Regions from separate parts of the Homo sapiens genome. Here region 1 is linked to region 2. Evidence: fine-mapped expression QTL. A gene starts in region 2. The other region holds a variant in brackets. All regions are shown on one strand. Distances are from middle to middle.

Region 1 (16,090 bases), 29 kb after region 2:
TTCACTGTAGGTAAATTTAAAAATAAAATATAAAAATAATGATGCCTAGGCCCTCCTCTCAGATTCTGATTTGATTTATCTGAAATGGGCCAGCCCCTCTACCTGTATATATGTATTTAACATCCCAAGCGATCATAATGTGCCACCAGGATGGAGAAAACTGCGGTGATGCGGCACTTCCCAAACACTAATGTCGTGCACGTGAACGTCAAGGACCTGTTAACATGAAGATTTTGATTTGGTAGGTCTGCTGCGCATAATGAAATCCTGCTTTTCTAACAGGCTCCTGGGTGATGCGGATGCTGCTGGGAAATGTTAGACATGCAGAATCCCAGGCCCCCACCCCCAACCTATAGAATCAGAATCTTCATCTTAACAAAATCCCCAGATGATTTACAAGCACCTCAAAGTTTGAGAAGAACTGTTCTGGGGTTCCCGTGGTGTGACAGCCATGGTGCTTGAGGGCTCAAAGGTCCAAATCCCTGGTGCGGGACCCTTCAGATAACTCAGTTGTTACCCTAATGTAGGAGCACATTTGGAATACACCCACCTTGTCCCAGACTCTCCCCAGCCCAGCACCACCTTCTCTCACCAATCCCCGTCAGAATAGAATCTCCTTGTATGCAGGTACAACATGGCTCATTTTTATATTTCCCAACGGTAGAATGTCTTGCACACAGAAGACTCCTAATGGATATTTCCTAAATTTTGCTGAACAGAATTTAACTTGAGCTGGCAACAGGCAGACTATGCACTTAGGTAGACATGCATTTAGTTTTGCCTTTTAATATTATAAATCTCTTTGGCTACATTCAAGGTAAACCTGGTATTGAAGCAAACTCTTTTTTATTTTTTTTTAGAGACAGGGTTTCATTCTGTCACCCAGGCTGGAGTGCAGTGGTGTGAACATAGCTCACTGTAGCCTCAACCTCTGGGGGCTTGAGCAATCCTCCCACCTCAGCCTCCTGAGTATCTGGGACTACAGGCATGCACCACCACACCCAGCTAATTTTTCGTATTTTTTCTAGAGATAGGATCTCTGTGTTGCCCAGGCTGGTTTTGAACTCCTAGGCTCAAGCGATCCACCCACATTGGCCTCCCCAAGTGCTGGGATTACAGGCAAGGAGCCACTGCACCTGGCTGAAGCAAATGTTAATTACACGTTTCAATTATACAAATGCAAAGGGGAACTCTTAAAACTACTGCCAAAATTCACGACCCAATGTCAGCGCAGTCAGATCACTTGCCTGCATCTCAATGCCTCGCTCAAGTATCTCTTTTAAAACAACAGAATACTGTAATTTGTTAGTTGTCTAGAGTCTGACATAAATTTTTAGAGGAGAAAAACCAAATATAATATATTTATTTTGATTGTTTCCTGAGAGGATCAAGACTGGAAACCACTGCATCCTGGGGATCCCATGTTTTTAACTCTTGATGGGAAGACGATCCCACTGGGCGGAGACTGTACCGTGTACCCCGTGTTTGTGAATGAGGCCGCATATTACGAAAAGAAAGAAGCTTTTGCAAAGACAACTAAACTAACGCTCAATGCAAAAAGTATTCGCTGCTGTTTACATTAGAAATCACTTCCAGCTTACATCTTACACGGTGTCTTACAAATTCTGCTAGTCTGTAAGCTCCTTAAGAGTAGGGTTGTGCCTTATTCAACTGCATACATAGCTCCTAGCACAGTGCCTTATTCGGTAGGCATCTAAGCACATTTCTTAAATTAATTAATATATCTTTAAAGATATCATATTTTATGTATGTAGCTTATTCAAAGAAGTGTTTCCTATTTCTATATAGTTTATTATACATGATACTTGGGTAGCTCAACATTCTTAATAAACAGCCTTTGTATTCAGAATATAAAATTGAAATAGATATATATAAAGTTATTTGTTTTATTGTGCTTTGCCTTACTACACTTCACGGATACTGTACTTGTACTTTTTTTCCAAATTGAAGGTTTTTGGCAACCCTGTGTCTAGAAAGTCTAACAGTGCCATGTTTCCAACAGCATGTGCTCACTCCTTGTCTCTGTGTCACCCTTTGATAATATTTCAAGCTTTTTTATGATTTATTTATTATATCTGCTATGGTGATCTGTGATCAGTGGCCTTTGATGTTACTGTTGTTAAGTGTTTTGGGGCACCATGAATCGTGCCCATGTGAGACTGCGAACTTAGTGAATGTTGTGTGAGTTCTAACTGCTCTACTGACCGGCCATTTCCTTGTCTCTCTCCCTGTCCTCTGGCCTCCCTGTTCCTTGAGACACAATAATTAATAAGTCTACAGCAGACTCTGTGTGTTCAAGTGAAAGAAAGGGTCATACTTCTAGAAATTAAGCTTAGTAAGGAAGGCATGTCAAAAGCTGAGACAGGCTGAAAGCTAGGCCTCTTGCACTGGTTAGCCAAGTTGTGAATTCAAAGAAAAGGATCTTGAAGAAAATTAAAAATTCTACTCCAGTGCACACACACAAATGATAAGAAAGCAAAACAACCTTATTGCTGATATGGAGACAGTTTTAGTGGTCTGGATAGAAGATCAAACCAGCCACACATTAAGCCAAAGCATGACCCACAGCAAGGCCCTAACTCTCTTCAATTCTGTGAAGGCTGAGAGAGGTGAGGAAGCTGCAGGAAGCTGGGAGAGGTTGGTTCACAAGGTTTAAGGAAAGAAGACAGCTCTAAAACCTACAAGTGGAAAGCGAACCAGCAAGTTGCTGATGTGGAAGCTGTAGCAAGTTATCCAGAAGATGTAGCTAAAATCATTGACAAAGATGGCTACACTAAACAACGGATCTTCAGTGTAGTTGAAACAGCCTTCTATTGGAAGAAGATGCTATCTAGGACTTTCCTAGCTAGAGGGGAGAAATGAATGCCTAGCTTCAAAGCTTCAAAGGACAGCCTGACTCTCTTAAGAGCTAACACAGCTGGTGACTTTGGGTTAAAGCCAAAGCTCATTAACTGTTTCAAAAATCCTAAAACTCTTGTTTTTTGTTTTTTTTTTGAGACGGAGTCTTGCTCTGTCGTCCAGGCTGGAGTGCAGTGGCGCAATCTCGGCTCACTGCAAGCTCCGCCTCCCAGGTTCATGCCATTCTCCTGCCTCAGCCTCCCCAGTAGCTGAGATTACAGGTGCCTGCCACCACGCCCGGCTAATTTTTTGCATTTTTTTAGTAGAGATGGGGTTTCACTCTGCTAGCCAGGATGGTCTCGATCTCCTGACCTCATGATCCGCCTGCCTCGGCCTCCCAAAGTGCTGGGATTACAGGCATGAGCCACCACGCCCGGCCCAAAAATCGTAGGACTCTGAAGACTGATGCTAAACCTGCTGTGTCTGAGCTCTATAAATGGAACAACAAAGCCTCGCTGGCAGCACATCTGTTTGCGGCATGGTTTACTGTATATTTTAAGCCCACTGTTGAGACCTACTGCTTGGGAAAAAAAAAAATTCCTTTCAAAATACTACTGCTGATTGACAATACACCATGTTACCCAAGAGCTCTGCTGGAGATGTGCGAAGAGATTAGCATTGTTTTCGCGCCTGCTACCACGACATCCAGCCGAAGCCCATGGATCAAGGCGTCATTGTGACTTTCAAATCTAACTATTTAAGAAATACATTTCAGGCTGGGGGAGGGGAGAAAAAAGAAAAAAAAGAAAGGAAGAAAAAAATCATTTCATAAGGCTATAGCTGCCATAGATAGTGATTCCTCTGATGGAGCTGGGCAAAGTAAACAGAAAACCTCTGGAAAGGATTCAGCATTCCAGATGCCATTAAGAACATTCAGGATCCGTGGGAGGAGATCAAAATATCAACATTAACAGGAGTTTGGAAAAAGTGAATTCCAACCCTCTTGGATGACTCTGAGGAATTCGAGACTTGAGTAAAGGAAGTCATGCAGATGTACAGCAAGAGAATGAGAAGTGGAGCCTGAAGATGTAACTGAACTGCTGCAATCTCATGATCACACTTGAATGGATGAGGAGTCGCTTCTTATAAATGAGCAAAAAAGTGGTTTCTTGGCTGCAATCAACTCTTGTTGCAGATGCTGTGAACACTGTTGAAATGACAAAGGATTTAGAATATTACGTAAACATAGTTGATAAAGCAGCAGCAGGGTTTAAGAGGATTGACTCCTATTTTGAAATGAGTTCGGCTGGGAGAAGTGGCTCATGCCTGTCGTCCTAGCACTTTGGGAGGCCAAGGCAGACAGAGCACCTGAGGTAAGGAGTTCGAGACCAGCCTGGCCAACATGGTGAAACCCCCTCTCTACTAAAAATACCAACATATTAGCCAGGCGTGGTGGCACGTGCCTGTAGTCCCAGCTACTTGGGAGGCTGAGGCAGAAGGATCACTTGAACCCAGGAGGCAGAGGTTGCAGTAAGCCAAGACTGCGCCACTGCACTCCAGCCTGGTGGACACAGCAAGCCTCCATCTCAAAAAAAAAAAAAAAAAAAAAATGAGTTCTACTGTGAATAAAATGTTATTAAACAGCATTTCATGCTACAGAGAAATCTTTCACGAAAGGAAGAGTCAATCAATGCAGCGAACTTGTTGTTTTATTTTAAGAAATTGTCACGGCCATCCCAACCCTCAGTGCCCAACCACCCTGATCAGGCAGCCATCATCAAGGCAAGGCCCTCCACCAGCAAAAAGATCATGAATTGCTGAAAGCTCAAATGATGGTTAGCTTTTTTAGCAATAAAGCATTTTTAATGAAGGAATGTACATGTTTTAGATATAATGCTATTACACATTTAACATACTACATATAGTGTGAGCATAACTTTTACACGTACTGGAAAATCAAAAAATATGTGTGGCTCATCTGTTATAATGTTTGTTTTATTGTGGTGATCTGGAGCCAAGGCTGAAATATCTCTGAGGTATGCCTGTAATGTATAAGTGCTAGTAGAAATGAGTTGTGCAGAATTGCTATTTTTTTCAATTTTTATATTTGGGTTAATGGTAATATACTAAGCGTCCAGTCTATAAACTTCAGCATTCGTTGCGAAATCCAGAGGAGACTTTTAAGTGCTGTTTTGTAGATGAAATATGAAAGAGAAACAAGGGCTTAATGGTAAAGATGACATATGACTATATTAAGAAACTGAATGGCCCTTTGTCCACAAACAGTAACCCACACAGCATTGCTACTGTGGCATGCCCACTGCTCTGCACTGACCTCATGGAGCAGAGAACCTCCTTCAGACACCTCACGCACCCCCTGAGGAGCTAATGTTTCTTCCCAACATGGAAAATTTGGAAGAGGCCTATTCTTCACAGCTGTCACTTCTCATTTTGAAAGAATATGCCCACCCTTATTCGCAGGCAAGGTGTGAGGAGGTCTTTGGGCTCCAGCTGTTGCCAGCAGAGGTGGTGAAAGTCAACAACAGGGCACTGGACACACATAGAAATGTGACCCACAGCTATGGTTTGCAAATACAGTCTTTCAAGAAGTCCTGCCATGTCCTAAATGCCCAAACCCCTTGCCTCCCATGATTCTTCTCCTCAAAGGACCTTCTGCTGGACGCCGCCCCCTCCCTCTCCAGCCCCACCAGGGCCCTCCCCGCCATCCTCTTAGGCCACAGCAGCCAATAAAGAGTGTTTTTATTCCATGATCTGTACCCCCAATGAATCCATAATCATAGTTTCAAATGTATTTACCAAAAATACTAACATTATCTGGAATGAATGAATGAATGAATGAATGAATAAATATTATATATTTATACATTTTCATTCTTCCAAAGTGAACCCCACTATGCCAGTTTTACTCCATACTCAGTGTTCTGGAAAGCCCATATTCTTTCTAAATTTTTCAGCATTTTTTTCTATTTTTGTACTTTACCAAAATTATTTACATTGGAATAAACTCTCTTCCTTCTGAATTCTGTAGTAAAAATGTGATTTATCAGCTTTTGTACATAAGATTTACCAAGCTTCCTTCTCCTGCTGTGAATGTTCCGTTGTGTCCTATTTCTGAGTCCAATTTTTCTAGGTCAGCTTTTTCCAGATGAAAATTTTGGCAAGAATATTCTTCCCTCAAATTTTAGTTATTTGTAAAATTTACAGTGTACAATTTATATCACTGTGGTTTCAGTGGGTTTCAGGGTTGATTATTCCTATCAAGTCTAATCTTCCCTTTTACAGTCTTTAAAGTTTCTAATTAGATGTGTGGTTGGTTTGTTTGTTTTTAATCTATAACATATTGCTGTGTGGTTTTAGCCACTTTGAGTTTTATTTTACTTTGATTATTTCTAACAATCTACATTTGCATTTTTCTCATTTATAAAATGGGAATGATAATAATAATAGTGCCCCTTTCATGGGGTTACTGTGAGGATTAAGTGGGCTAAGACATATAAGCACTTAGCTCAGTGCTTAGCACAGAATACATACTTAACAAATCACTGAAGTTCAAATTCCTAGCACAAAAGGCCCTTCCTGATCTGCCCTCCCTCCCCGACGCCTCCCTACACTCATCTCCCTTTGGGCCATCTCCACTCCAGTGTCCTTCCCACTGTTTATTCCTCTAGGCCTTTACATAGACTGACTCCCCTACCCAGAACTCTCCCCCACTGTCCTCCACCTCCCACCCCACCTCAGACTGCGCTCTAGCCAATAATGCCTTTTTCTCCTTCAAAATGCAACCCAACTTTCATTTCATAGCCAACATGGTCTTCGTCGACCTGACTTTGTTGCCACTTTGCCCCTCCTTCTATCCCATCTTGAGGGCATCAGCAGTGTCTTTTTCGATGTCTACAATCTAGAAAGTGACCAATAGAGGTGAGTTGAATAAATGAGCATGCTCAAACATCCCTTCTCTACTGGAACATCTTCATCTTCCACCAATGGCCCTGCCTTTCTTTTTATCTTCCTTCCCAGTCACCTCCTGAGAACTGTCCCCATCACTCCCAAGTGAAACACTTCGTTTTACACCCTCCAGACTGTTACTATGTCCCAAAGGACAGTGGAAGGAAAAAACAACCATTTAAGTCTGCAAATCCATGGGAAAAAAAAAAGGAAATTTTCTTTTCTTTTTTTTTTTTTTTTTTTTGAGATGGAGTTTCACTCTTGCTGCCCAAGCTGGAGAGCAATGGCATGATCTCGGCTCACCGCAACCTCTGCCTCCTGGGTTCAAGCGATTCTGCCGCCTCAGCCTGTTGAGTAGCTGGGATTATAGGCATGCGCCACCACGCCTGGCTAATTTTGTATTTTTTTAGTAGAGACGGGGTTTCTCCATGTTGGTCAGGCTGGTCTCGAACCCCCGAACTCAGATGATCCACCCACCTCGGCCTCCAAGAGTGCTGGGATTACAGGCAGGAGCCGCCGCACCAGGCTAAAACAAGGAAATGTTCACACTCAACAATTCCCCTGTTTACAATCCTTTGGTGGCTTCTTACCCTTGTTATGAGATCTCAAAGCCTCACCACGGCTGTCCAAGTCCTACATGCACTGGCCTCTGCCCACCCCTCTAGCCTTATTTCATGTCACTTGGCCCCTTGCTCCCAGCAATTTGGCCACATAAGACTTCTCCAGTCCTCAGATGCACAAAGTTCCCTACCACCTTTGCCCACATTTTCCCACTTACTGAAACGCTTCCCCATCTCCACACTTCCATTAGCTAAATGACGCTACTCTTAAACATGACTCAGGCTAGGTTAGGCCACTCTGTTATACAAGCTCATTGCCAGTACTAGACTGGCACTTACCCAAATTGCAACCGTAATGCTTTATGACACCGGGGCAGGTGAAGTTATTGTCTGTCTCTGATTAAACTGCAAAAGCTCCAAGAAAGCAGGGATAGCATTTGTCTTATTCTTTGTCGTACACACAGCACTTCACGCATAGAAGGAGCTCAGTGCGTTTTGCTGGATAAATGAGAGTTGCTCTGCTGAGTGTGAAGCTATCTGGAAGGGCTTCTTTGGAAGAGCGGGTTGTCACTTCCCTCACAAGGGTGACCCCAAGATAGCCACTGGAGACCACAGAGAGTGGGAATGGTGAACCACATACAGGCAGTGCTCCAATAGGAGGAGCAAATGAAAAGTGGCAGCTGGGGAAACCCTGAAGCCTGAGAGTCCCATGGGGGTGACCAGGGAGAGAGGCCTATACGGGTCATGGATGTTCCAGGGCAGCAGGACCAGGGAGCGTCTGAAGGCCCATATTTGCATATCCGACAAAAACAGAGTCTGGAGGGAAATAGCTGCTTAGGGGTTTTTTGTTTGTTTGTTGTTTTTTGTTTTTTTTTTTTTGTTTTTGAGACGGAGTCTCACTCTGTCACCCAGGCTGCAGTACAGTGGCATGATCTCCGCTCACTGTAGCCTCTGCCTCCCGGGTTCCAGCGATTCTCGTGCCTCAGCCTCCTGGGTAGTTGAGATTACAGGCATGCGCCAGCAAGCCTGGCTAATTTTTATATTTTTAGTAGAGATGGGGTTTCATCATATTGGTCAGGCTGGTCTCGAACTCCTGACCTCAGGTGATCCGCCCACCTTGGCCTCCCAAAGTGCTGGGATTACAGGCGTGAGCCACCATGCCCGGCTGCTTTTCTAATATCTCTATACTTCCCACACATACTGCCTTCAAGAGGCTTGTGATCTACCTGTAGAGACCTTTGTATGCCTGTTCCCAAAGCAGACACACCAAAAACCCTAGTCTAGTACTTGGCAGACAGTAGTTCCTGAACACCTACCAAGCCGATGACTGAGAGGGTCACTCAGAGAGGACTTCGCCCAGGGCTGCCCCATCAGGCTTGGTGGGTTGCACAATATGAAACTCCAGGGAGGTACCTGCACACACCACAAAGTCAATGGCACAGCCCAGAAGCTTACATCCCATCAAAGCAAAAACAGCACTAAAGTTTCCCCCATTCTGCCAAGAAAAGAACAGGAACTTGACTAGCAAACAAAGTCAACCAAAAAACTGAGGTCTATAGGGGATTAATGTAGTATAATTAAGGGGAAAAAAATACTAAAGCCCCATTAGCTACAGATAGACTAAATGTTTAACAGAAAAACGTCATTTTTAGAAACTACATATTAAGGGAAAGAATAACTTTCACAGTCTTGAAACATAAGAAAGCTCAAGAGCATAGAGAGCATAGAGAGAGGTCCCTAGACAGGAGTTTTCTTGCTCTAAGTGAAAGGCAGGGCCACGCACAGGGACCTGTAATCCCAGCACGTCGGGAGGCCGAGGCAGGTGGATCACCTGAGGTCAGGAGTTTGAGACCAGCCTGGCCAACATGGTGAAACCCCGTCTCTACTAAAAATACAAAAAATTACCTGGGCTTGGTGGCGGGTGCCTGTAGTCCCAGCTACTTGTGAGGCTGAGGCAGGAGAATTGCTTGAAGCCGGGAGGTGGAGGTTGCAGTGAGCCGAGATCATGCCATTGCACTTCAGCCTGGGTGACAAGGCAAGACTCTGTCGGAAAGACAGAAAAAGAGAGAGAGAGAAAGAGAGAGAGAAGGAAAAGAGAAGGAAGGGAGGGAGGAAGGGAGGGAGGGGAGGAGGGAGTGGGGAGGCGAAGGCAACCAAAGCTTAGGAATGTGGGTGCAAATAAATTCACAGGTTTGGTGGTCACAAGTTGAAGGTGTTTCCAACTTATGGCTTCCATTTTCACTGTAAAATAAGGGATAAAACCTACTACAGCTATTGATATGGAAATGGTGGGGTCACAGGTTTAAGAAGTATGATGGTTTTGAAATAACAAAATATGATGGTTTTAAAAAATAAAACAGAAAACCGATGAAAGAAATAGAACAGCTGGACAGTAACAAGGGTTGCTATAAACATTAAATGAGACATGTATGTAAAGTGCATGGCACTTTATAAATATTCATGTCCTTCTCCCCTCCTACCACCATCTTAAATGGAAGAAACTGTCTTACTTATATTTGTATCATCTATCATTGCCCATACTTCATGTTCAATTTTTGTTGAATTGGTTCTAAATCTTCACACATAGTAAGTGAGATACATTTTTTGAGTTGGACTGAATCCTTTCTGCAGAACTTTGCTGTTACTGTCAGAGGGGTTGCTGGTGCAGTGAGAAAAATGGTAGTTCTTGATACTAGACTAACTAAACTTCAGAGAACCTGGATCCTCCAGCCAGGAGAAAGGATTGTGAACTTCGCATGTCATTCCGTCTGTCTCCAAGTCTCGATTTCCCTACCTATTAAACTGGGATACGACACTCACCAAACCTACAAAACAATAACCAACATGACCGGAAGAGCTTTGTAAACAGTGTAGCATACAATCTCAAAGGCTGAACGCATTGAAGGAATCCTTTGGGGAGGTAATTTCTCAGAGTATCAAGAACCATAAAAATGTTGAAACCAATTGACCTAGGCATCTCCTTCCCAGAAATATATCCTATGACAAGGGTTTCCACCCTTTTTCTACCCGTCCACCCAAAACATCCCCATGGATGGCACATTCCTAGGTTTTGGACTAACGCCTATTAAGCTAGGATGTGAATCACGTACAATCCCTGTCTTGCTGCCACTCAACAAGATACATCCCAGTGAAGGAAGTTATTCTGGGAATCATCTGAATTAAGTAAATAATTCACCAAATGCAGTATTTCACTTATTAACAAATTGGTTGCAAGTTCCACAACCCATCAAGACAAGCAGTCAAGACTTGGCATTCCATCAGAGAAATGCAAATCAAAACCACAATGAGATACCATCTCACACCAGTTAGAATGGCAATCATTAAAAAGTCAGGAAACAACAGGTGCTGGAGAGGATGTGGAGAAATAGGAACACTTTTACACTGTTGGTGGGACTGTAAACTAGTTCAACCATTGTGGAAGTCAGTGTGGCGATTCCTCAGGGATCTAGAACTAGAAATACCATTTGACCCAGCCATCCCATGACTGGGTATATACCCAACGGACTATAAATCATGCTGCTATAAAGACACATGCACACGTATGTTTATTG[C/T]GGCACTATTCACAACAGCAAAGACTTGGAACCAACCCAGATGTCCAACAATGATAGACTGGATAAAGAAAATGTGGCACATATACACCATGGAATACTATGCAGCCATAAAAAATGATGAGTTCATGTCCTTTGTAGGGACATGGATGAAATTGGAAATCATCATTCTCAGTAAACTATCGCAAGGACAAAAAACCAAACACCGCATGTTCTCACTCATAGATGGGAATTGAACAATGAGAACACATGGACACAGGAAGGGGAACATCACACTCTGGGGACTGTTGTGGGGTGGGGGGAGGGGGGAGGGATAGCATTAGGAGAAATACCTAATGCTAAATGACGAGTTAATGGGTGCAGCGCACCAGCATGGCACATGTATACATATGTAACTAACCTGCACATCGTACACATGTACCCTAAAGCTTAAAGTATAAAAAAAAAAAAAAAAAAAAAAAAGACTTGGCATTCAAGTTAAGAACTGCCATCCTTATGAAATCACTCAAAGGAATGAAGAACTGAATATACCTATGAATTAGGCTGATCGGCAATAATGATAGTAAGAACATCAGCTCTTTCCTATCTATTCTCTCATTGCCTCCTTGTGAAAAGCCTGCGTGGTGGACAGGAGGGATTTATACCTTCTGTTCTCCAGGTGGAACCATGGGTTTCTATTCACTCAAAATAATTTGACAGCCAACAGCCATGATGGATAGAGCCCTCATTTTTTTTATTTCTTCCAAAAAAAAAAGGGGGGGATACAGGTGCAGAACATGCAGGTTTGTTACATAGGTATACGTGTGCCATGGTGCTTTGCTGCACCTATTGATCCATCCTCTAAGTTCCCTCCCCTCACCCCCTACCCCCCAACAGGCCCTGGTGTGTGTTGTTCCCGTCTCTGTGTCCATATGTTCTCAATGTTCAATTCCACTTATGAGTGAGAACATGTGGTGTTTGGTTTTCTGTTCCTGTGTTAGTTTGCTGAGGATGATGGCTTCCAGCTTCATCCATGTTCCTACAAAAGACATGATCTCATTCCTTTTTATGGCTGTATAGTATTCCGTGGTGTAGATATAACACATTTTCTTTATCCAGTCTATCATTGATGGGCATTTGGGTTGGTTCCATGTCTTTGCTATTGTAAATAGTGCTGCAATAAACATATATGTGCATGTGTCTTTATAGTAGAATGATTTACATTCCTTTGGGTGTATACTCAGTAATGGGATTGCTGGGTCAAATGGTATTTCTGGTTGTGGATCTTTGAGGAATCGCCATACTGTCTTCCTCAATTGTTGAACTAATTTGCATTCCCACCAACAGTGTAAAAGTGTTCCTATTTCTCCACAGCCTCTCCAGCATCTATTGTTTCCTGACTTTTTAATAATCGCCATTCTGACTGGCGTGAGATGGTATCTCACTGTGGTTTTGATTTGCATTTCTCTAATGACCAGTGATGATGAGCTTTTTTTCATATGTTTGTTGGCCACGTAAATGTCTTCTTTTGAGAAGTGTCTGTTCATATCCTTTGCCCACTTTTTGATGGGGTTGTTTTTTTCTTGTAAATATGTTTAAGTTACTTGTAAATTCTGGATATTAGACCTTTGTCAGATGGGTAGATGGCAAAAATTTTTTCCTATTCTGTAGGTTGCCTGTTCACTCTGATGGTAGTTTGTTTTGCTGTGCAGAAGTGGATAGAGCACTCTTTGAGGGCTTTCATGGCCTGAACCACTGACATTATGTGGCTGTGAATCCCTGGGCACATCACTTCAAGCCCGTGAGTCTCCTTTTATTGAAACTGCTTCCAAAGCTGCTGAGTGGTTCGAATTGACTACCTGATGTGAATGCGCTTTGAGATGCAAATACGTACAAAGGTGACATGCCTTATGGCTTGCTGGCTCTGTTCCTAAGCCGGAACCAATGATAATGCTTCAGGTCCAAAAACGGGCCTTCCCTTTACCCACTCCTGTTAACAACACTCTAGGGTTTCTAGTCAATCTGCACATTGGCACACCTAACGCAAGGATAAAACGTGGCCATAACGAGGCAAAACAAATATTTATTAGAAATCAAAAAACCATTTCTTCAATGGCACAAACATGTTCTTACTCTTTGTATGATTTCTTTCTTGAACATAGAGTTTCGCACACACATACACACTAAGAACAAGTAGGTAAATGAGAATTTACAAGGATCCGGCACATTCAAGGGAGAATGGGGTGACGATTCTGTGTTTGGAACCAAGATCACAGTAAAAAATATGTAAATCAATGCAGAAATCAAGTACGGCTTACAGGCCCGGATGACGGCCCATCTACCTGGGCCCTGCCCAGAGCGAAAGGTCACAGGTCACCAGGCCTTGAGGAAGGACAGGAATGTCAATAATAAAGGGCTCTCTCAGGCTGGAGCCTTCTAAGAGCCTGAAGACTTCACAGTACAACCTCCAGCACCTTCTCCCACATCCCAGGGAGGAAGGTTAAGCACCTTTTATTCCTAACAGATATATCACATAATGTCTAGAATAATGAATTCTTCCTGAGGAAAAGTTTAGCTAAAGGAGCATTTGCAGCCAAAGGCACTATCTGAACCTGGGAGACCCCATCCCTGGAAAACACCTTCCCCTGAAATTACTGAAATGTCAATCACGGAGTTTTAGGATGTCCTGATAGACCCACGGGTTCAACGGGGTGTGTGTGGGGGCTGAGGGTGTGTGTGTGCATGGGTGTGGTTTTGTGCACCCCTGTGGGCACACTTGAATTTTCAACTAGTCATAGGGAACATAGGGGACAATGTTGACTGCCAAATGAGACACCTGAGAAAATAGTCCTGCCCCCCAATATAAGCGAAATACAAAGACTCAAAATGATGGAATAACTGTGCTTTTTAAAAATAAATAAATAATGGCTCAGGGAGACATCTGTGGTCCAAGAATCAGGACACTCCAGCCTCCACAGCTCTGATATGACCTTCCTGCATGACTTTGCCCAAGTACACATTCCTCTCGGAGCATTAGCCTCTGGGCGTAAAATGAAGGAAGTGCTCCTTTTCACTCTGATGCTTCTTGACTTATGGCTTCCCTTGGTAAACCTACCTAGGCTCAGACGTTTTGGCTGAAAGCCTTTTGGGGTGGACACTGTTGGGAAGAATATCCAATACAGAAAATGGTCTTGCCAACAAATTCCATCCAGACCCACAGACAGCAGATCACCAAAACATGTGAGATGACAAACATCCCTATGGCTCTCCATTCCCCACTTGGACAAAAGCTGGCAGGTTAGGCAAATAGAAATCAATAATTGGCTTTATCCATTAACATCCGAGTCAAAGCAACTCTGGATACGGCTTTATCCATAACAGATACGGCTTTATCCATTAATGGATATGACTTTCTCCATTAATATCTGAGTCAAAGCAATTCTGGAATTCCCAGCTCCATAGTGTGGAGCTTGGCATCATGAATCCAAACCACTTCCTTTCAGACCAAGATGTCTGTTCAGGCTTAATGCGGGTAGCTAACTCCAGATGTGGAATGCTGATTTGTACAATCTCCAGGCTAAAAGGGACCTTAAACTTCTTCCAATGACCATTTTCAACAACATTCCTCATTAAGTGCGCAACCAGCTTCTGCTTAAACATCTCCAACATCTGGAGCAGTTGCTGGATTCTGTTGAGCCAAAATCTTTCTCAATTTCCTAATTCTGCCCATTCTGAAACACATCTGCTCCTCCTGCCTCTAGGACAGTTCTCCTCAAATCTTCTCTTCTCCAGAGGCCCATGCCCAGCCCCGACCACTGTGGCTTAGAGCACGCGATTACTCCCTGGGTCAGCTGGGAGGGCAGGGGCTGCTGTGGATTGTGAAGCCTCACACACCCCAGCCCACCTCTCCCCAATCGGCCCCATCAGGGGCACAAAGTCTCTATCTGTCCAGCTAGTCTGGCACACAGAGTGGCCCAGGGCAGAGAAACTGGCCCAGAGTGCACTGCTAGGCCCCGACTCTTCAGTTTGCCTCAAGCCAGATGAACTTATCTATCGCCATGTTATCTGAAGGCCAAATTTCTATTTCTGCCATTTAAGATTAACATTTATGGTTACTATTTTTATAATTCCACCTCGAACATTTTTACATGAATCCTTTCACCAGATAACGGCGGCAGAGTGGATTTTCTGGTGGTTTCGGCCCCAGTCACCTGGAAAATCCTTCCGTCTCCACTTCACCTCTGCCCCCCAGACTGACTCCGTGTCATTTCAGAAAGAGAACATCAGAGGACGAGGACCTAAAAATAAGCTCAAAGTCTTGGCAAATGCTTTTCTCTCACAAGCTTCCCCTTCAGCTTCAAAATTCACAGTTAAAATTAAAAAAAAAATACTTCGTACCAAAGCAGTTGAGGCATTTTGTTAAATTCCCCCACTGAGACATACTGAGGTATGCGACTAACTGCTGAGTTCCAAGATGATATCGATCGAGCAGCTGCTATTTCTGCTTCAGCGAAAGCCACGATCCCAGCACACAGGCACGCGCTACTGTGAGGTCAGGACGAGGAAAAGAGCCAGGACCTTTCACCCAGATCGCGGCGGCCCAGCAGGACTTGCCCGGAGTGTCTCATGCAGACTTTTGTGTGTGTGAAGAAAAGCTTTTTGTCTTGCTCTGGGCACCCTGAGGCCAAATATATAATACTTACATCCAGCCCCAAAGCCCCCAGTCTGTCTCCACTTTTAAAATCACAAACTTCATTGTAGTAATTTTCATTCTCAACTGAAATGTCTTTTCCGTATTGCAAGTTAAAACCCTGTGTTAATTCTGCTACTAAAAACATCTCTCAGCTTGAGACAGTTTGAACCTTGGGGTGTCAGGGGACGTTCACTCCAAGGATGGTCTCCTTTTCCCCGAAGGGTTCCGGAAGGGTGTTTCCAGAGCGCATTCCCCTCCTCCCCCAGGATATCCAGCTTACCTCCGTCCCCCGCACACTCTGGGATGGGATCACGGGTCTCCCACAAATTCAGGCAACCCAGTCACAGCAGAAGAGATGGTACAATGTGTGGGCTGGGGTTGGGGCTGACGGGGGAAGCTGGCAGGAGGAAAGACTCCTCTCCCTGCTCCTCAAGACTGCTGCCCCTTTCCCGCCATCCATCTCT
Region 2 (9,092 bases):
GGCGCAGTGGCCGCCACCTCGGCGCGATGGCATCTTCGCTGCCTGCCTGGCCGCCCTTGGCCGGGCGCGATGACGTTAACGCTCTTCCTTGGCGTTCTCACACTGTGGACCCAGGGATGGCTCCAGCTCCTTAGAGTTTTGCCCAGAGAGGAAAGGAGACTGTCCTGTGACTGGAGAGACAGAGGCAGATCTCCTGCCCAACCGGCCTCAGCCCCACCATCGTCTAAAAAGTGTGCCCCACTTCCCCTCACCCCCTGGCCCTTAGGGTCCAGACATCCGTTTGTTAGATGCTGGTGGCCACCCAGAGTGTGCCCAGAGATTGACTCGAAGGCCACCCGAGGTGTCTGGCTCAATTTCTGGGTCGGATCAGGGTCAGGGAATCTGAGTCCCCGGGAGGCTGGGGACAGAGCTGAAGCCCAGGTTCAGATGGCGGCCATGGAAGGCGGAGAGCCGTCAGCGAGGCAGCGCCGGGGCTGCGGGAGCTTGCGGGAGGGAAGCGCCCGTGAGCCGCAGAGACGCTCTGCAGGGGAAGCCGCGTGGTGTGCGACCCTGGGCGTTGAGCTCCAGGCTTCCTGGCAAAGAGGACTGTGGATTCCTGGCCCTGTGACCTTGGGCAAGTTACTTACTGAACACCCTCTGGACCTACCAGTAAAAGAACAATAACAACAATCGCCCTAAAAATACTAGAAGATGAAATAGACAATCCTGGCACACAGTAAATGCCCAGTAACTGTTAGCCCTTATTTAATTTGAGTAACAGTAGCTGCCATTTATCCGGAACTTACTATGGGCCAGGTAGTGGATTCTAGAGCTGTCTGAGTTCAAAGCCCATGTTTTGTTGTTACCGTATCTTCTAACCATTTGAAGACTGGGATAGGGAAGGGCTTAGAGATGAAAGGAAGATTGTTAGTAAAGGCCTAGGCCTATAAGACCACAGACATTTTAGTAGTTGCTTTAAAACTATCTCAAGTAAAGAAGAGTGTTAGAAAATAATATTAGATGTAGACTGAGACCAGATAATAGCAGACCTTGAATGCCAGAGTAAGGAACAGCTTTCAAGGAATAGGGCCATCTTTTATTTTGGGAAGAAGAAGACTTGAACAATAAAAATAAAACTTGTTATTTATCATGGTTCCAGAGAGGAGTTACCCAAAACATGAATAGAAGCTTCAGGGAAGCAGATTTTGACTTGATATCTACATACGGATGTGCATACATTTACAACACACACCCACCCACCCCAAAAATAGATTTTTCATTAAAAAAAAAAAAAAAAAACCACCTTAAGCCGATTACTTCTGTAGGGACTGCAGACATGAGCAATATAGAATATTTGCTAGCAGTTTATAAACTTAATCTGTTTTATACTTGTCTTTTTCTGCTTATTTATTTCCACCTGGAAAGTTGGTCAGGATGGATCACAGGGAAGGAGAAAACTAAAGTAGTAAAAGTAGTTTGATTACATAACTACTGAACATCACATTATGTATGAGACATCTTATGTATAATATTTAACAAAAAACCCTTCTTATCCCCCAGTCATACCATTTGGGAAACAACCCACCTTAAATTTGTCTCCTACAAAATTTCTGGCAGGGATCTACTGGACAGCCATGACTGTGAAGTAAAACTCTGCTCTCCTTTTGTTTTGTTTTGTTTTGTTTTTGAGACGGAGTTTCGCTCTTGTTCCCCAGGTTGGAGTGCAATGGCACAATCTCAGCTCACTGCAACCTCCGCCTTCTAGGTTCAAGTGATTCTCCTGCCTCAGCCTCCTGAGTAACTAGGATTACAGGCACCCGCCACCACGCCCAGGTAATTTTGTATTTTTAGTAGAGACGGGGTTTCACCATGTTGGCCAGGATGGTCTCGAACTCCTGACCTTAGGTGATCCGCCCACCTCGGCCTCCCAAAGTGCTGGGATTACAAGCATGAGACCACACCTGGCATCCTTTTGTTTTAAACTACATTATTTTATTAATACATCAGGCAACTCTATCCCACAAAACATTTGTAATGCTGGAAGTTATGCTTACTCTTTTAAGTACTTCAGAATATTATATATTCAACTTAATAATGAGATAGTGACAATTCGAAAGGGTTTCACTTCGTATACTATCAGTTCGCTGAGAACTAATAAAAAAGTGTGGTTTTTTGGGTCATCCCAAAAATCAAGTACACTTTGGGAAACAGGGAGTTAAAAATCTTTCGGAAGTTAACTTGGTATAAGAGTATGAAAAGCCTCTGTTGCTCTACTTCTGAGGAAATGCTCTCCTTTTTCCTAATAAAGCTTTCCACAGAAGACAAACTCTGTACACAAAAAACAAGGTAAGTATGGGAAATAATTGCTGCAATTCATTAACTCTCAAAAAAGTTATTCATTTTGACATGTAAGAGAAACTTTATTTATGAATGTGAAATGTGCTTCAAAGTGCTGATCTGTTAAAATTCCATAAAACAAGCTTCAAAATGCAAGTCATTTGTGCCAGCTACGAGTAAATAACTGAAGCAGCATTTCCAGAGAGACTAGGGCAAAGGACAGAACAAACTACAAATCAGCAGAAAAGAAACCAAGCATAGTAGAGTGTTAATAATTCACCATGGTTACTGCTCTTAAAACCAAAGCAACTAAACAACTGTCATCTGTTTACTTTTACGTGTGTTTTCATCATCTCTACACCGTCTGAAGTGTTCAGTGTACATGGATGTGGACAGACAGTCAAAGCCTACAGGAGCTTTTTTTTTCTATTAGAACAGTCATTTTAATGCATAGATTTGATGTGGTTATTTTGCTTTCTCTATCTCTGCATTATAAGCTCTTAAAGGAAGAACATTCAGTGGGTTTATTAAATATTAGGAAGCATTCATATTTTATTTTTCCACCATGTATTTGGTTTGTATGCATGTTTGTTTCCTGAGCACACTGTAATGGCTGTTTATGTGAATTCTGAAAGAGCAAAACTAGAACTGTGAAGAAGACCAAAAATAACAGAGAGGCACCCTATTGTCCTGTGAAAAACACTAGACTTGGGATGAGAAACATGGGTCTCAGGCCTAGGTTCTCCTACATCCCTGCAGAACCTTAACTGAGTTACTTAACCTCTCTTTCGTTTACCCCTGCAGTGGGGATGTCAACACCTAACCCACCCTATCGTATAAAATTAATGTATGAATAAACTGAGTGAAAGGACATTATAAATTAAACTCTGCAATTGTAATAAATTACTCTTATTGTACCCTCTATCAAACAACCTGGCGTTACTAGTACATGGTATTCCCAGTACTTGAACATATGTGACTTTCTGGGTGACTGAGCATGAAATCAAATCAGATTTGGCTCAGAGTCATTTCTCCAAAGGGATGTAATCATCTTAGTATTCTGGAAAATTTCCCCTAATAAGACCCCTTTTTGAGTAACACAGTCCAGTGGAGAGTCCCCGCTGACAGTGAATAAGGCTGTGTCTATGTAAGTTCACATGATGTGGTTAGCACATGCAGTGTGTCCCAAGACATTTTCAGGCATCACAAAAACTTGAAAAGTACTAACAGTTGTCTTTCCTTTGGTATTTAGGCAAAAAATGAGGAAGATTCATAAGTAAGTTAACACAGAATTACCAAAAACCTCATGAGAAAGAAATGAAGGGATGTTTCAGGGTAGCTTTTCGAGTCCCAAGTGATCATTGATTTGGCCCTTCTGTTTCTGATTGTGAAAAAGCATTCTGAAAGAATGGGCGCCGGTTCAAGAGGAGGTCTCTGAGGGTCAGCCTTTGGCTGTTTATAGAGGTGAGATTCAAATGCCCTCAGATCATGAAAAGTGCTTGAACTCATTTCAGAGAAGAAATGTTTTGAAATGCCCGTGGAAATACTGAGTGGGCCACTTTTTTATTTTGTGAAATTAGAAACGTATAAACTATTTTTATTATTACAGATAATTGTGAAAGCCTCACTGGATGACATCCTAGCTGAGGAAAAGAATGGAATTTTTGTATTAGTATGAAATGCTAATTTATTACTGTATTTAGATCTACTGACCATCTGAGGGAGTTAGAAGTTAAAGTAAACAGCTGTATCTCTAGTTGATCTTTGCATATTTTAATCCAAATATGGCAAAGGGCAGGGCTAAAGAAGGGAGTGTCCATAAACGGGGCTCAGAACTTGTAACAGAAAATTAAAATATACTCCACTCAAGGGAATTCTGTACTTTGCCCTTTGGGTAAAGTCTCATTTACATTTCTAAACCTTTCTTAAGAAAATCGAATTTCCTTTGATCTCTCTTCTGAATTGCAGAAATCAGATAAAAACTACTTGGTGAAATGACTTCTTGTCACATTGCTGAAGAACATATACAAAAGGTTGCTATCTTTGGAGGAACCCATGGGAATGAGCTAACCGGAGTATTTCTGGTTAAGCATTGGCTAGAGAATGGCGCTGAGATTCAGAGAACAGGGCTGGAGGTAAAACCATTTATTACTAACCCCAGAGCAGTGAAGAAGTGTACCAGATATATTGACTGTGACCTGAATCGCATTTTTGACCTTGAAAATCTTGGGTAAGACTATGCTTTGTATTGTATATGTATGTATGTTGTGTGAAAAGTGGTAGGTGTGTGAAAGAGAACACATATATGTATATGCAGATGATAATTCATGTCCGTACATGCAGTCGTATGTTGAATAAGATCACTTTCACTTTTAATTATACTGCATTGTGAATTGCACAATTATCTAAACTGGGCATTCACATGCTCTTTTATAAACCTTCTTAAGCACCAGATTATTAAGTTTTCTTTTCAAATGTATACAGACTGAGACAATAAATAGAAAAGGGTTTTGTTTTAAAATCATACCTTTAAAGAAACAGATTTAATACTCCTTTGCATTGAGTTAGTGTTTGGCCACTATGCTTGCATATAAAATTGTTAGCTTTTTAGGAAATTCACTACGTTTTCAAGCAACTATGCTTACGGTAATGCATAAAGTTCTAGTTCAAAAAATGTAATGTTTCAAGTAATATTTGTTGAATGAAAGCGTGATTAAATATCTTTTGTCAGAAGACATCAGACACTTTGGGAGGCCGAGGCAGGCGGATCACGAGGTCAGGAGATCGAGACCATCCTGGCTAATGCAGTGAAACCCCATCTCTACTAAAAATACAAAAAATTAGCCGGGCGTAGTGGCGGGTGCCTGTAGTCCCAGCTACTTGGGAGGCTGAGGCAGGAGAATGGCGTGAACCCGGGAGGCGGAGCTTGCAGTGAGCCAAGATTGTGCCACTGCACTCCAGCCTGGGAGACAGAGCAAGACTCCGTCTCAAAAAAATAAATAAATAAATAAAAATAAAGACATCAGACCTCCCTGTGATCCGAAGTAGCAGACGTACTTAACTTCCATGGTGGATTGTTGTAGATGGGATACCAGAGATGAGAACTAAAGACACCATCTGAATTTTCAGAGCTTATATTTTGCTGATTTGTAATATATTGCATACAACGTAAGCAGTCATAACATGCTAGGTTAGGTCCTTATTAATTATTTTTGCCTTCGTTTACATCATAATAGCTACCACTGTGGATATAATATGACTCCACATATTTGCTTTTTACCACTTCTTTCTTTCTTTCTCTTTTTGAGATGGAGTTTCGCTCTTGTTGCCCAGTCTGGAGTGCAATGGTGCAATCTCAGCTCACTGCAGCCTCCACCTCCGGGTTAAAGTGATTCTCCTGCCTCAACCTCCCGAGTAGCTGGGATTACAGGCACTTGCCACCATGTCCGGGTAATTTTTTGTATTTTTAGTAGAGACGGGGTTTCTCCATGTTGGCCAGGCTGGTCTCAAACTCCTGGCCTCAGGTGATCTGCCTGCCTCAGCCTCCCAAAGTGCTGGGATTATAGGCATGAGCCACCGCGCTGGGCCGCTTTTTTTCTTTTACTAAAAAATATTCTGAAACATCTGTTTTTCTCAGGAAACTGTGCCAGGTACTGGGGGAGTACACAGCTCTATACAACTTGGTTTCTACCCCTCAAGGAGTTGGTAGACTACTAGCTAAGATATAAGATACATGGCCGGGCACAGTGGCTCACACCTGTAATCCCAACACTTTGGGAGGCTGAGGCAGGCAGATCATGAGGTCAGGAGATCAAGACCATCCTGGCTAACACGGTAAAACCCCGTCTCTACTAAAAAAAATACAAAAAATTAGCCGGGCATGGTGGCGGGCACCTGTAGTCCCAGCTATTCGGGAGACTGAGGCAGGAGAATGGCGTGAACCTGGGAGGCGGAGCTTGCAGTGAGCAGAGATGGTGCCACTGCACTCCAGCCTGGGTGACAGAGCGAGACTCCGTCTCAAAAAAAAAAATATATATATATATAAGATATGCACAGGCACAACTAGCCACTGTTCTATGTGCTTGTTTTCTGATCAACTCTAATTTGAGTTAGATCACTCCTTAGGTTTAGTCTCAACACAGATCAAAACATGGACACTACTCTTAATAGAAACATGCCTCACTTTATGGAATAGATGTTTTTCAGGGCAATTATACTGCAGTCATCCTGTTTGTATCAAATCATATTTTTACTAGCATAAATTTTAATTTGAGAAATGCTTTATCTTCATGACTGAGGTTATGTCAACACAATTCATGCTTATCTATTGACCTAAGAGAGCTGTTAACTAACTTCTATATTACAAGTAAGAATTTGTTGAAGGATAACTTTTAGTCGGCATATTAACTTCCCAAATAGGTGTGAAATGGACTGGGGTGAGTTTATGAGCACCCAGTAGTATGCATTTCAGTGAGCACAGTCTTTTCACTTAAATTCACTTTCTGCTCCTTACTGTTAACACTGTTCAGAGACTAGACTGTTCCCAGCGTGGTTGAAAAATTATAAAATAGATAAACTAATTAACTTCTCCCATCCTGCCTCTCCCAAATTTATTCATTTTCCTATATTCCTCATCTCAGTGGTGGCATCATTATCCACCAAGTCCCCTGTGAAAATCACCCTAGAACCTTCCCAGTCCTTTGTCTCCCACGTCTAGTGGGTCACTAAGTCCTCCCAATTATTCCTTGCAAGTACTTCACAAATCCAGCCTTCCTCTCCAGTTTTACTACCTTAGTTGATTTCCTCTGTGGACAGTTAGAATAGCCTCCTAAAGGGTCTCTCTGCATCCAGACTTGCTCTGACCCTTCCTGTCATCTATTTTCCATCTGATACCTCTAGGAATCATCCTAATATGCAAATCTTATCATGTCTCTCCCCTGCTGAAAATTCTTTAAAAATGTATCCAGAATAGATTTAATCAACTTAGTATGGCTAATGCCCTTCAGAATCTCACTCTTCCCTATTCTTCATCCCTTGGGACTCTTCCAATGGGAGCTCAACTGCAGGCATGAGAACTCAAAAGTGTCCATCTTTTTGAAAACTTCCAGACTTGACTCTGAGCAACTGGGTAGATACTAGCACCATTTACTCAAATGCGGAAGAATGATATAGAACCAAAATTGTCGGGCGCGACCTCAGGGGGTTATTTCATGAATTAACTTTTAAAATGTATAAATATCCATTAGGCTTGGTTTGCATACAATAGGAACCTAAGAATAGTGGTTTAAACAAATAAGGGTTTCTTGTTCACAAATAATAAGTCCAGAAGTAGGCTGTCCAGGGCTGATGGAGCGGCCACATGATATCATCAATGCCACAGGCTCCTTCTACCTTCCCACAGCACTGTCTCAACATGGCCCCTTCCACCTTCCCACTGCACCATCTCAACGTGGCCCTTTCCACCTTCCCCCTGCACCGACTCGACGTGGTCCCTTCTACCTTCCCAGTGCACTATCTCAAGATGCCGGCTTTGTCCTCATGGTTTTTGCTTCAAAGTCACAAAATAACTACTCCACCTTCCTGATCTCATTCCAGGCAGGAATTAGCCCATTGTACACAGTAGGTCCCTTGAAGATACTAGCAAAAATAACCAAGGAATACAAATAGATGGAATTTTAGGAAAATGTGGTTGAACGGTTTAATGAGGAAAAGTAAATGAAAAACATTATTATATCTAGAAAAAAAATGTATCTTAACCATTGTGGGAAGTGGGGAGAGGGTAGAGGCCCATTTGAGAATGGAAGAAAAACTACTGGCCCTTGTGCCAGAAAAAAAATACATATATCTGTACCTGCAAACTTGTGGCCTTTTTGGAGAGGTTAGACTCTGAAAACTCTGTCCCTGGACCTCTAGTGGTTCCTGGACCTCAATTAAGAATCTCTAATTAGGCCAGGTGTGGCTGCTCATACTTGTAATTCCAGCACTTTGGGAGGCCAAGGCAGGAGGATTGCCTGAGGCCAAGACTTCTGTAACCACCCAGCAAGTTCTCCTCATCCGCTGCCCAGACAGAGCTGATTTATCAAGACAAGGGAACTGCAATAAAGAGTTTAATTCACACAGAGCCGGCTGTACAGAAGGCCAGAGTTTTATTATTACTCAAATCAGTCTCCCCGAAAATTCAGACACTGGAATTTTTAAGGATAATTTGGTGGGTAGGGGGCCAGTGAGTCGGGAGTGCTGATTGATCAGATTGAAGGTAAAATCATAGGGAGTTGGAGCTGTCCTCTTGCGCTGAATCAGTTCCTACGTGGGGACCACGAGACCAGATAAGCCAGTTTATCCATCTGGGTGGTGCCAGCTGATCTGTCAACTCAGGGTTTACAAAATATCTCAAGCCCTGATCTTAGGTTTTACAATAGTGATGTTATCCCCAGGAGCAATTTCAGGAGGTTCAGAATCTTGCGGCCCTCCAGCTGCATGACTCCTAAACCATAATTTCTCATCTTGTGGCTAATTTGTTAGTCCTGCAAAGGCAGTCTAGTCCCCAGGTAGGAAGGGGGCTTGTTTTGGGAAAGGGCTGTTATCATCTTTGTTTCAAAGTTAAGCTGTAAGTTCCTCCCAAAGTTAGTTCAGTTTACACCCAGGCATGAACAAGGATAGCTTGGAGATTAGAAGCAAGATGGAGTCAGGTTAGATCTCTTTCATTGTAATAATTGTCTCAGTTATAATTTTTGCAAAGGCAGTTTTAGTTCAAGACCAGCCTGGGCAACAGAGCA

Which allele goes with the higher level. Alleles are on the strand shown, and positions count from the first base shown. SD is a standard deviation of normalised expression in the study named.
In carriers of allele C in region 1, the expression in putamen of the gene that starts at base 4,148 in region 2 tends to be higher than with T alone (small effect, 0.26 SD a copy in GTEx).

What was found. PIP is the estimated chance that this variant, and not a neighbour inherited with it, causes the effect.
Region 1: its variant is the best candidate, but not a certain one, in a credible set for the expression of ASPA in putamen (GTEx, PIP 0.82).

The regions. Positions count from the first base shown.
Region 1 is chr17:3,497,506-3,513,595 of GRCh38, forward strand. TRPV3 (transient receptor potential cation channel subfamily V member 3) reads right to left here. Exons shown (of 18, transcript NM_145068.4): 18 at 12,997-16,090. ASPA (aspartoacylase) reads left to right here. Exons shown (of 6, transcript NM_000049.4): 6 at 1,386-5,900. The coding sequence ends at 1,583. It also overlaps a transcript of SPATA22 not described here. Among named protein-coding and RNA genes, the nearest start is that of ASPA, 30 kb to the left of the region's middle. RefSeq lists an enhancer at 12,494-13,032. The variant C/T (reference allele first, on the strand shown) is at 10,958.
Region 2 is chr17:3,471,850-3,480,941 of GRCh38, forward strand. ASPA (aspartoacylase) reads left to right here and starts at 4,148. Exons shown (of 6, transcript NM_000049.4): 1 at 4,148-4,546. The coding sequence starts at 4,311. It also overlaps a transcript of SPATA22 not described here.